Linked DNA regions of Homo sapiens. The protein of the gene in region 1 interacts with the protein of each later gene in a biochemical or structural test. Each region holds a gene or a part of one and is shown on either strand. Other genes may lie near its edges.

Evidence for each region. The genes of interacting proteins can lie anywhere in the genome.
Region 2: the proteins of PIAS3 (region 1) and SMAD4 form a complex in vitro, tested with the Homo sapiens proteins (one study listed by BioGRID).

The regions. Positions count from the first base shown.
Region 1 is NC_000001.11:145,849,048-145,856,084, forward strand, and holds part of PIAS3 (E3 SUMO-protein ligase PIAS3), read right to left. Parts: coding exon 7,021-7,037; intron 6,780-7,020; coding exon 6,689-6,779; intron 5,834-6,688; coding exon 5,699-5,833; intron 5,517-5,698; coding exon 5,411-5,516; intron 4,840-5,410; coding exon 4,766-4,839; intron 4,618-4,765; coding exon 4,457-4,617; intron 2,107-4,456; coding exon 1,973-2,106; intron 1,893-1,972; coding exon 1,724-1,892; intron 1,599-1,723; exon of another isoform or gene 1,540-1,598; coding exon 1,406-1,539; intron 1,223-1,405; coding exon 1,185-1,222; intron 666-1,184; coding exon 399-665; 3' UTR 1-398. UniProt on the Homo sapiens protein: Functions as an E3-type small ubiquitin-like modifier (SUMO) ligase, stabilizing the interaction between UBE2I and the substrate, and as a SUMO-tethering factor.
Region 2 is NC_000018.10:51,082,176-51,085,542, reverse strand, and holds the end of SMAD4 (mothers against decapentaplegic homolog 4), read right to left. Parts: 3' UTR 501-3,367; downstream 1-500. UniProt on the Homo sapiens protein: In muscle physiology, plays a central role in the balance between atrophy and hypertrophy. When recruited by MSTN, promotes atrophy response via phosphorylated SMAD2/4.

The DNA.
Region 1 (7,037 bases):
GGTTTGGGTAATAAGAAGAGAGAGCATTTGGGGTTCAAGAGAGGTGCCCCTTCCCCAAGAGGCTCTAGACATAGTCAAGGCTGAGGGTTCAGCCCTTCTCCTAGCTCACATACCATCCCATTTGCCTCCCACTGCCTAGGTTAACATACCCAAAGGAATGTGCCACCATCTAAAGAACATTTCCAGAAACAGACCCCAGTGTCCTTAAAAAGAGGTTAAATATTAACCCTTTGGGTGCTGGCCTTGTCAGGCAGAGATGAGGCCAAAAGTAGGCATCTGTGAAGGTCTGTCTGGCCCTTGGCCAGAGCCCCCAGAGGGATCAGAGTAGCTGGGGTTGGGACTCCACAGCATACTTGCTCAGTGTTGGGGGACAGCGAAGTTTCCATAATCCAGGGAACTCAGTCCAGGGAAATGATGTCTGACCGACAGCCAGTCAAAGAGGGACCTGAGGGCAGGGGTCCTCCATGCCCCTCCCTCAAGGCCCCCCCAGGGGCCACAATGCTGCTGACACGGCCAGGAGGGGGCGCCGGAGTGGCGCTGCAGTGGGAGCTCCCCAGCGTGGGGGCCAGTGGGCCCAGAAAGTGAGAAGGGGTCCCTCGGTACTGGAAGAAGTGGCCAAGGGCATCCTGTTCATCTAGTGAGGTGATGACAGAGGGGCCATAGTGCTAGGAAGAATCAAGGGCATAGTTTAAGATCTCAATCCCGACTTCCCCACCTCCCAGTCACTCATCTCAGAAATGCCGTATGAGAGCAATCAACCCCTGTGGATCCGAAGGTATTCTCTTGAGAAGCAGGAGAGCCTCTCCCTCTTTCCCCTACTTCCCTACACCCTTCCCCTTTCCCTGCCTTGAGAGAGCTCCTCCAACTTGTTAGGTTCTTGGCTTTGTGGGCGTCTGAAATGTGTGGAATGTCCGGTTAGAGCAGGCATGGTGCTCTAAGTGCACACGGGGGTAGGGGTGAGTAGGCCAGGGCAGAAAAGTAACAGGGGATCTAGGAAGGAGGCCTAAGTAGGAATCTCAGGAACTACCAGTGGGGCTGAGGAGATAATAAGATACCTACACCCCACTGCCCTCACGGGAAAGCAGATTTACATCCCCAGAGATCATAAGAGAGGGAGGGGCCCCATCAGTGTCTAGAAAGGAAGCTTCAGAGATCTGAGACCTTCTGAAGAAAGAACCACTTACCTGACTCTCTGTCTGAAGAAATGAAAATAAATCTAAACCTGGCAGGAAAAGAAAAATCAAAATTAACCTCCTATCTGACCCCTTTACCACCAAAAGACAAAGCACTGTGGACTGTGGCCCCTTGCAGGAGAAGCAGGAGGCTTTGAGAAGGAACAGGGGTTCTGATGTAGCTCTGGGGAGGGTGTGGCAGTGCAGGGTCCATCTTATGACCCATGTCATACCTTGGATGTCGGCTCCCAGTGGGAAGGCAGGTGGGTACTCATGTAGTGGGAGACTGGACAGGAAATCCCCACCCAACGTGCCCATAGCAGGGCTCCTTAGCACCGAGGATGGCTGGTGGCCAGATGTCAGGACTCTGTGGGTAGAGAGGAGCTGAGGCAGCCAGCAAACCACAGATGCCCTCACCCAGCTCAGGTCCCCAGGTTCCCTCTCTGTCCCCTCCACATTTCTCTTGCCCCAGGCTTTGTCCAATGATCAGAAAGCAATCCTGACTTCTTCCCCTGTCCGTTTTGCTGTAGACTCAGCCTATTTTCTCATACCCTTTGCTTCCAGGTAGGGCCGGGATGGCAGCTGAGGTGACAGAACAGTGCTTCTTGGTAGGGGGCAGATCCTCCTCATCTGATGAGCTTTCTATTGTCAAGTCAATAACTTCGACCTTCTTCTTATTCTCTGATGGATCTCCCCCCTGGACTGGGCTGTACTGGAGGCCTGTGGGTATTAAGAAGACTACGTCTCAGAGAAGAGGCCATCCAAGATTTAGCTTAGCTGGGGAACAGGGGGTCACTCACCATCCAGCCCATACCCTGGCGGGGGGCAAACCTCAGATGCCTCCTTCTTGGGTTTCATTGGGCACCAGGATCCATCTTCCATGAATTGGATCTCATCACAATCTGAACAGGAACTAAGAATCTCCATAAATAAACTGGGGGAAGAGAGAGATGAAAATTCACGGGGCTGGGAGATGAGCAGAACAGTAGCCAGAGTTCTGTAACTCACCTTCCTGTATCTCAGTTTCCTCATCTGTAAAATAAGAACATTATCCATCCTACTGGACCGCTCTGAGTTGTTGGAATCAAATAACACAAGGTATGTAAAAGAGCTTTGCAAAGTAAGTAATAGGTTTTAAAATAAATACAATCTGAGGCTGGGTGCAGTGGCTCACGCCTTTAATCCCAGCACTTTGGGAGGTACAGGCAGGTGAATCACTTGAGGCTGGGAGTTCAAGACCAGCCTGGCCAACATGGTGAAACCTCATCTCTACTAAAAATACAAAAATTAGCCAGGTGTGGTGGCACATGCCTATAATCCCAGCTACTTAGGAGGCTGAGGCACGAGAATCGCTTGAACCCAGGAGGCAGAGGTTGCAGTGAGCCTAGACCACACCACTGTTCTCCACCCTGGGAAACAGAGCAAGGCTCTGCCTCAAAAAAAAAAAAAAAAAAAAAGCCGGCGTGGTGGCTCACGCCTATAATCACACTTTCAGAGACTGAGGTGGGTGGATCACCTGAGGTCAGGAGTTCGAGACCAGCCTGGCCAACATGGTGAAACCCCATCTCTACCAAAAATACAAAATTAGCCGGATGTGGCGGCACATGCCTGTAATCCCAGCTACTCAGGAGGCTGAGGCAGGAGAATTGCTTGAACCCAGGAGGCAGAGGTTGCATGAGCTGAGATCACGAGACTGTGCCATACCACTCCAGCCTGGGTGACAGAGTGAAACACCGTCTCAAAAAAAAAAAAAAAAAAAATCTGAGCACTTACGTGTAGTATAAGGAACAAAAGGAGCAGAGACACAGAAGTCCATAAACCATCTCCAAAAGGCACTGGGTCTTTGGCTTTCTAAACACTTGTGTAAAAATAAATAAATAAAGGCACTAGGGGCCAGGCATGGTAGCTCATGCCTGCAATCCTAGCACTTTGGGAGGCCAAGGTGGGAGGATCACTTGAGGCCAGGAGGTCGAGGCTGCAGTGAGCTATGATTGTGCTACTATACTCCAGTCTGGGCAACAGAACGAGACCCTGTCTCAAAAACAAACAAACAAACAAAAAGTGGGGGAGCACTGGGAACAGGAACCATAATGTAGATTCCAAAAAGAGGTTAAGACTAGCAAGATCAAAAGATTAGAACATCCAGGCCCTGAAAAGAACCTTATTGCAATGCTCAGTGGGAAGTCAGGTAGTTGTTATAGGTGATATATTATGACAGTTCAGTACACTGGCTCTGCCACTTAACAATATAACCTTGAGCAAGGCTCAATCTCTCTCGGCCTCAGTTTCCTCATGTGTAATGATACTACCTATCTCATAGGGTTTTTTTTTTTCTTTTTTTTTTTCTGGGTGAGTGTCACTAGCCAATCATAGGATTATTTCTTTTTTTGAGACAGGGTCTCAATCTGTTGCCCAGGCTGGGGTGCAGTAATGCAATCATAGCTCACTGCAGCCTCAAACTCCTGGGTTCAAGCCATCCTCCTGCCTCAGCCTCCTGAGCAGCTAAGACTACAGTCATGAGCTATTATAACATGCCTGGCTAATTTTTTTAATTTTTTATAGAGAGAGGGTCTACTATGTTGCCCAGGCTGGTCTCAAACTCCTAGCCTCAAATGATCTTCCCATCTCAGCCTTCCAGTGTTGGAATTACAGGTAGGAGCCGAGTCCATAGGGTTATTGTGAGGATTCAATGAGATAACTCATGCAAAGTGCTCAGCAAGATGCCTTGTATATACTAAGTCCTTAATGTTGCCCTCCCCCTCCACACACATGCACATACACACACACACACACAGACTGGTAAAAGGGATAGATAAGGTGAGAATTGCAGTTCATGTGAGGGGAAGTAAGCCATATGAATTAAAAACCCTGAAGGAGGTGGTGGCTAAAAGAAAAAAGAAATATTATAGGCTGGGCATGTTGTCTCATGCCTGTAATCCCAGCACTTTAGGAGGCTGAAGTGGGCAGATCACCTGAGGTCAGGAGTTCAAGACCAGCCTGGCCAACATGGTGAAACCCAGTCTTTACTAAAAATACAAAAATTAGCCAGGCATGGTGGTGGGTGCCTGTAATCCCAGCTACTCAGGAGGCTGAGGCAGGAGTATCGCCTGAACCCGGGAGGTGGAGGTTGCAGTGAGCCAAGATTGTGCCACTGCACTCCAGCCTGGGGAACAGAGTAAGATTCCATCTCAAAAAAAAAAAAAAGAAAAGAAAAAGAAAAAGAAATAACCAAGAAAAGAGGTTCTAGTGGATGTCCTAGGTAAGAGGAAGCAAAATGGCCCTACCCATCAATGATAAGAGATTCATAGGGAGCCTTCTTGTCACACACAGGACATGTCCATGTAGGCTTCTTCTCATTCATCTGTAGATAAAGGGCAGCATCGAAGCTCTGCAGGTGGGCGCAGGTGAGGGCACGACAAGGGACAGTCAGGCGCATCTTCCCTAGCTGAGGAGAAGCAAGTTCTCTTGTCAGAGGCCCTACTCTGATTTCATCCCAGAAAACTTCACGCCAGTATCCCTAGGAACCCTCATCAAAGTCCACAGGCTAAACCCAACTCCCTTCCCACCCTGTTCCCTTCTCCCCTTTTACCCACCGGGCACATGAGTGACACCCGGAGACTTGTAGTGGCCACCTCACTGTCAGGGTCAGCAGTCAATTTCTCCTTGACTGAAACAAAAGTGAGGCCAGAGCCATGGGGTCAGCAAGGCTGGAGGAAGCCCAGGAGTTGGTAAGGCCAGGAACAGATGGCTCTGGCTGAGAGGCTGCTGGGTGGAGCGTCTTTGGGGGCCAGTGGGACGTCACATGGAAGTGGTCTGGGATATGGATGATGAAGGCTGGGTGTGGGGGATTTTCCCATCCCTGAAGATGCTTAAACATAGCGTGACACTCTGGCTATGTTAGAGATGATCTGGAGGAGTTGAAGCATCATGTGAGGGTTAGATTAGAGGACCCCTAAGATTCTTTCCAGTCCGGAGAGCCCATATTCTAGCAGGGCTGGAGTTAGGGACTGTGAGGTGCAAAGCAGATACATGATTGGAAATTCAAGGGTGCCTGGGAGTGGTCCAACTTCAACTATAAAGACTGGAAGACTGGTCAGGGGTAGAGGGGGAGGGTTGGGGTTCATGTGAGAAGGGGAGTAAGTTGTCAAAAAAGAGGTATGGGTTTAATTATGAAGGCTGGAGGGCCAGGAAGACTTGAATCCAGATCAGGTGGGGAAGAGAGGAAAGATGTTACTCACTCAGTGCCCGCGAGTGGTCTGGGTTCCGGATACCCTTTGCTCTGAGTTTTTGTAGAAGGGTTCCTGCAGTCAACTGCCTCACCAGGTACACAGACAAGGAGTAATTCTACTTGGAGGCAGGGGGTAGACAATTAGCCTCTGCTTCTCATACCACCACTGCCCACTTTTGTTCCATGAGGACCAGAGACAGACTCATAAAGAGGAAAATGCTTCCCCAACCCAGGACACTGGATGGTTCCCCTTCACCCTCAGCAGGCTTTTCCAGGCACCTGCTTTAGCTGTGCTCACCCGTCCGAACTCAGATGACCAATTGACCACAATGGTGTTGGGAACAGTGGCTGAGAGTCGAGCCAGGGGTGTGATGTTGATGGGGCGGCTGGGCCTCTTGGGCTCGGCCCCATTCTTGGTTGGGGGAAGGTAACCCTGGAGAAGGGAGGGATTGGTCAGTGGAGAAGTGGCTCTGGGAAGGGGCTCTGCTCTTTGAACAAAAGATATCTTGTCTCGGGTTATTCAATCCCTGGAGGGAAGGCCAACTCGCTCACTCACTGACCAAGGGGATGGAGGCCCATTCAGTGGCTCACAAAACTGGAGCACTGTCTAGGGTTATGTGTGGGGTTCACTCCTGGGGAGAAAGGAGAGCTTATTTATTGACTGAGAAAAAAGGAACTCACTGAGTCCCTGAGGAGGAGGAATAAGGATGCCTCACCTTTTCTAACTCTCAGCTCTGGGGTCAAGTCTTTCTGGCCGGGTGTACTGGCTCATGCCTGTAATCCCAGCACTTTAGGAAGCCGAGGTGGGTGGATCACCTGAGGTCAGGAGTTCGAGACCAGCCTAGCTAACATGGTAAAACTCCGTCTCTACTAAAAATACAAAAATTAGCCGGGCAGGGTGGTGGGCACCTGTAATCCCAGCTACTTGGGAGGCTGAGGCAAGAGAATTGCTTGAACTAGGGAGGCAGAGGTTGCAGTGAGCAGAGATTGCACCATTGCACTCCAGCCTGAGTGACAGAGCGAGTGACTCTGTCTCAAAAAAAAAAAACAAAAAAGAAGTCTTTCTTACATCTCGGGTTGAACTAATGTCCTCCTCCGAGTTCTCACAAAACCTTTGTTCAGCCCTATCTTAATACTCTCGAGATTCTATTGATTCAGTCAGTAAACTGAGCACCTACTATGTGCCACGCACTGTGCTAGGCATGTCTCTTTCAGAATAGGTTTGTAGTTAATATTTATGAACTGAAACGGTAAGGGATTACTGACAGAAGAAGGGGAGAGCATTTACCGGCAGGGGGCACAGTTTCCCATTGACCTTGACAAAGAGGTTGGGGGGAAAATAATCTTCCTGGGGGCAGCTGGTCTCACAGAGACAGAACCTGGTAAGAGATGAGAAAGGAAGAAAGAGTGGGAAGAAATTTCTTAACTTGAATCTGGCAGAGAGACAGGGAACCCCAGAAAATCAGTCATAGATGCCTGAAGCCCTCAGCATCCAACAAGAGTCGCAGGGCTGCAGTAGGCAGTGGCAGAGCAGGGACATCTCGTAAGGGTATCTGTCATACCCCTACTTCACTCCTACCCCCAGTGGGTACCCAGGATAGGCAGGGAGGATGAACTCACCTTAGCTGCACCTGTAT
Region 2 (3,367 bases), on another chromosome or scaffold:
CAGGTGAGAAGAAATCTCTCAGCCCGATAAACTCTCTGAAACTCATGTCAGCAAGCTTAGAAATAAAATGCTGATGTGGTCTTGTTATATACAAGCCATTGCCACGGAATCTACTTACCTGACCACCACTCCCCTCCCATTGACCCCTATTTCACAGAGAAGGCAGATGGGAGAGAAACAGCTTTCCTTATCCCTTAGCTGGGCAATGAAAGGGTCTCCAATTTCCAATTTTACCTCTCCTTTAAGCATCCTGGTTCTTATAATTCCCTAGCACCCATCTCTCTGATCACCATCACTTCACCTTCTCCTTTTAAAAATGAGAGAAGAATGGGGACTGTTATTCCAGGGTCATATTTTAAATGTCACATTTCCCATTTCAGTGGCCACAAGGCAATAAAGGAAAATGTTGACCTAAAGTTTGAAAATTCTCTAAGTGATCAGAAACCCTTTCCAGATCCAAGACATCCACAAGCTTAAGAAAAAGAATGAGCACATAATGATTTAGTTGGCTTTCTCTTTTAATCAAAAACATACTTTGTTACAGAGTTCTCAAGAAAGGTTCGACTATTTTTTAGCCACAGACTTTAACCAGGCAAAAGTATACAGAAAGCCACAAAGGAACTCCTGGGACTTTCAACTGACCAGTTGTCCCCAAAGCAGAAGCTACGAGTGGCTCTTCTCTGGCTTCTGGCATAGCTGCATTCCTCTGAATTTAGGGGAGGAAACAGTTGGGAAATACCACCACCAAATCTGTCCCCAACCCCCAACTCACTTCTTCTAAACTGGGCTCTGCAGCCCACCAGGTTTTCATCATCTATAAGCATTCACACTTTTCCCTTAAATCACATGTCCAATGCATTGAACAGAACTCAATACTTGAAGAAAGTTTGCCAACTCCATGTTTAGTCTTAATCAATCCAAGCCCGTGAGTCCTTCTATCAATGACAAGCAGCCTTTGCAACAGCAGCTGGTTTCATCCCTTCCTCTCCAGCTACCACAAAGCTGGCCTCTACCAGGACTCCCCAACCCCCCACCCTCAACCCAGCCCCAAGGAAGGCTCCCAGGTCCTTGAAAATATGAATTTCATTAATTGTACTCATCCAAGGGTAGGCTAGAAGAGAGCTCTGAATGATCCAGCCAAAAGTCACTTAATCAAAATGGACCTAAAAAGAGCCAAGAATAAAGTTAATAATCATCTACTGGTATTGTTTTCTTGAGTCATATAAACCAGTTTAATTGACACGGTTCAAGGGAATTTCCTTGTTTTGAGCATAATATCACTAAGCATTAACAACAGGTTTTCAATCCATTTTCACTGAAAAAAAAAATTACAAGCACACACCACTTAGGAGGGTGGTGTCACACACACCAACTCAAAAGCTATAATGTCATGACTCGAAAGCCTTAATAAACTCTGACCAGAGTGTGTGCGTGCGTGTGTGTGTGCACGCAATTCAAAAGCTAGAATGTCATGACTCGAAAGCCTTAAACTCTGACCTGTGTGTGTGTGTGTGTGTGTGTGTGTGTGTGCGCGCGCGCGTGCGCACGCGCGTTAAGTGTTTATTGCAGCCCCTAAGGTGGTGCTAGGCCTTTGGTTAAAATTAAGTCTTAAGGGCATACTATGTAACCTTTTGTCCATAAAAGAACAGTAATAAAATATCAAGCCTAGTCTCCTTTGAATAACATGGAAATAAGTAAAAAGCCCCCTCAAACAGCAGAACAAAGATAAGGAAGAAATCCAAAACTGCTGCAAGGTAGCCAAGGTCACTTAGAATTTCAGAGCTGGAATAATTAATCTACTCCAACTCCCTCATTTTACAGATGAGGCAACTAAGGCCCAGAGAAGATAAATGACTTGCCCAAAGGTCACACATCAAATTTGTGGCAGAGGGCAAACTAGAGAGTGCAACTGTCTGGCCCAACCCAGAGCCATTACTTTCAGGTTGAACAAGAACACTGGCTCTGGACCTATTGAGAAAGCATTTAAATAAACGGTGTGAAAAGTATCCACATCAACAGAGAGAAATGATTGTCTTCACCAAAGGTTTTCCTTAGTCCTTACTACATTAGAAAAAAAAAAACAGAAAAAAAAAGGACAAAAAGTTTCATTCATTCATTCCAGTCTGATGTTAAAATCCCTGAAAACACTAGCAATTACTTTAGCTACTCCTTGGGGCAGGATGTCAGACCCTCAATTCTCATAAAGGCACCTATAGGTCAAAAATATCTGTACAGGAGTAAGGCCAGAAGGCAGGGCTTCAAAGGGGACACCAAAACAAAACAAATGGCCTTAGTTTCCCAAGGTTTGTTTTGCTTTGTTGTGTGTTGTTTGCTGGTGTCCTCCAGACAACGGTATTGCCTCTGGCTACTGATGCTAATTTAGTAACCCTTGTAACCCCAGTTTTTGTAAGAGCAGCATTCAAGTGGAAGCAATGAAACCTTTCAAAATATTATTCTAAGGGGGAAAATATGAATATGACTCACTTCTCTCTATCTCAACTACCTGAAACTCAGCAAGAATCAGGAAGCACTCTAAGCTACATCAAACTGATATCAAATGCCAATACAATGAGGTCTTTTTCAGCACTTCACAGGAAAGTGTCTTGGGTCCTGTCCCAGAGTTTGTACTTGTGTTTTAAAGAACGTTCTAGTAAGTTTGGTTATCTGGTTTCCTTGCCTAGGCAGTCAGAAATGAAGAATCAGAAAGAGAAGAAGAAAATGCTAAAAGGAGGCACACTAACACTCACATATGAATGGTAATTATCAGAGAGGGAAGAGACCAGGAGGGGAAGTGGGTTAAAAAAAAAAAACTAAAAATTCAAAACCATAGCTGTCTCAGACCATTTAGTAAAGGCAACACAGTCCTGTCTGTTTTAGAAGCCCCTGAAGTCCACAAAGATAGCCAAGCACAGAAAGAAATGTTACCATCTAGTATATCCTCTGATATACATATTAAATAACTCCACCAAAAAAAGGCTAAAAATTAAAACGTTTTACTTCTTAAATAAGGCAATTCTGGATGATGTGGAAAATTTCACTCCACAGTGATTCCAGATAAACAAGATAAGCAACCTAGCAGCACTGGGACAACTGCTAGGGATAAGGCTGGGCCTAGGATGCCACTTTGTGGATGAATAAGGCCATGGACTTTTTACATACTTCTTGGTATGTTCAAAGAAATTACTTAGTTATCAGGGAAAAAAATGGAAAGGCTTGAACAAGATTGTCATAGCCTATTCTCTGTAGTCTTTGCAAAAGAGGATATGAGATTATTTAGATAGCTATCTGCAACAAGATGGATTCTGCCTTTACGGGAAAAAAAAATGCATTACTTTAAGCTGAGTGTACCCCACCTACAAAATAATTG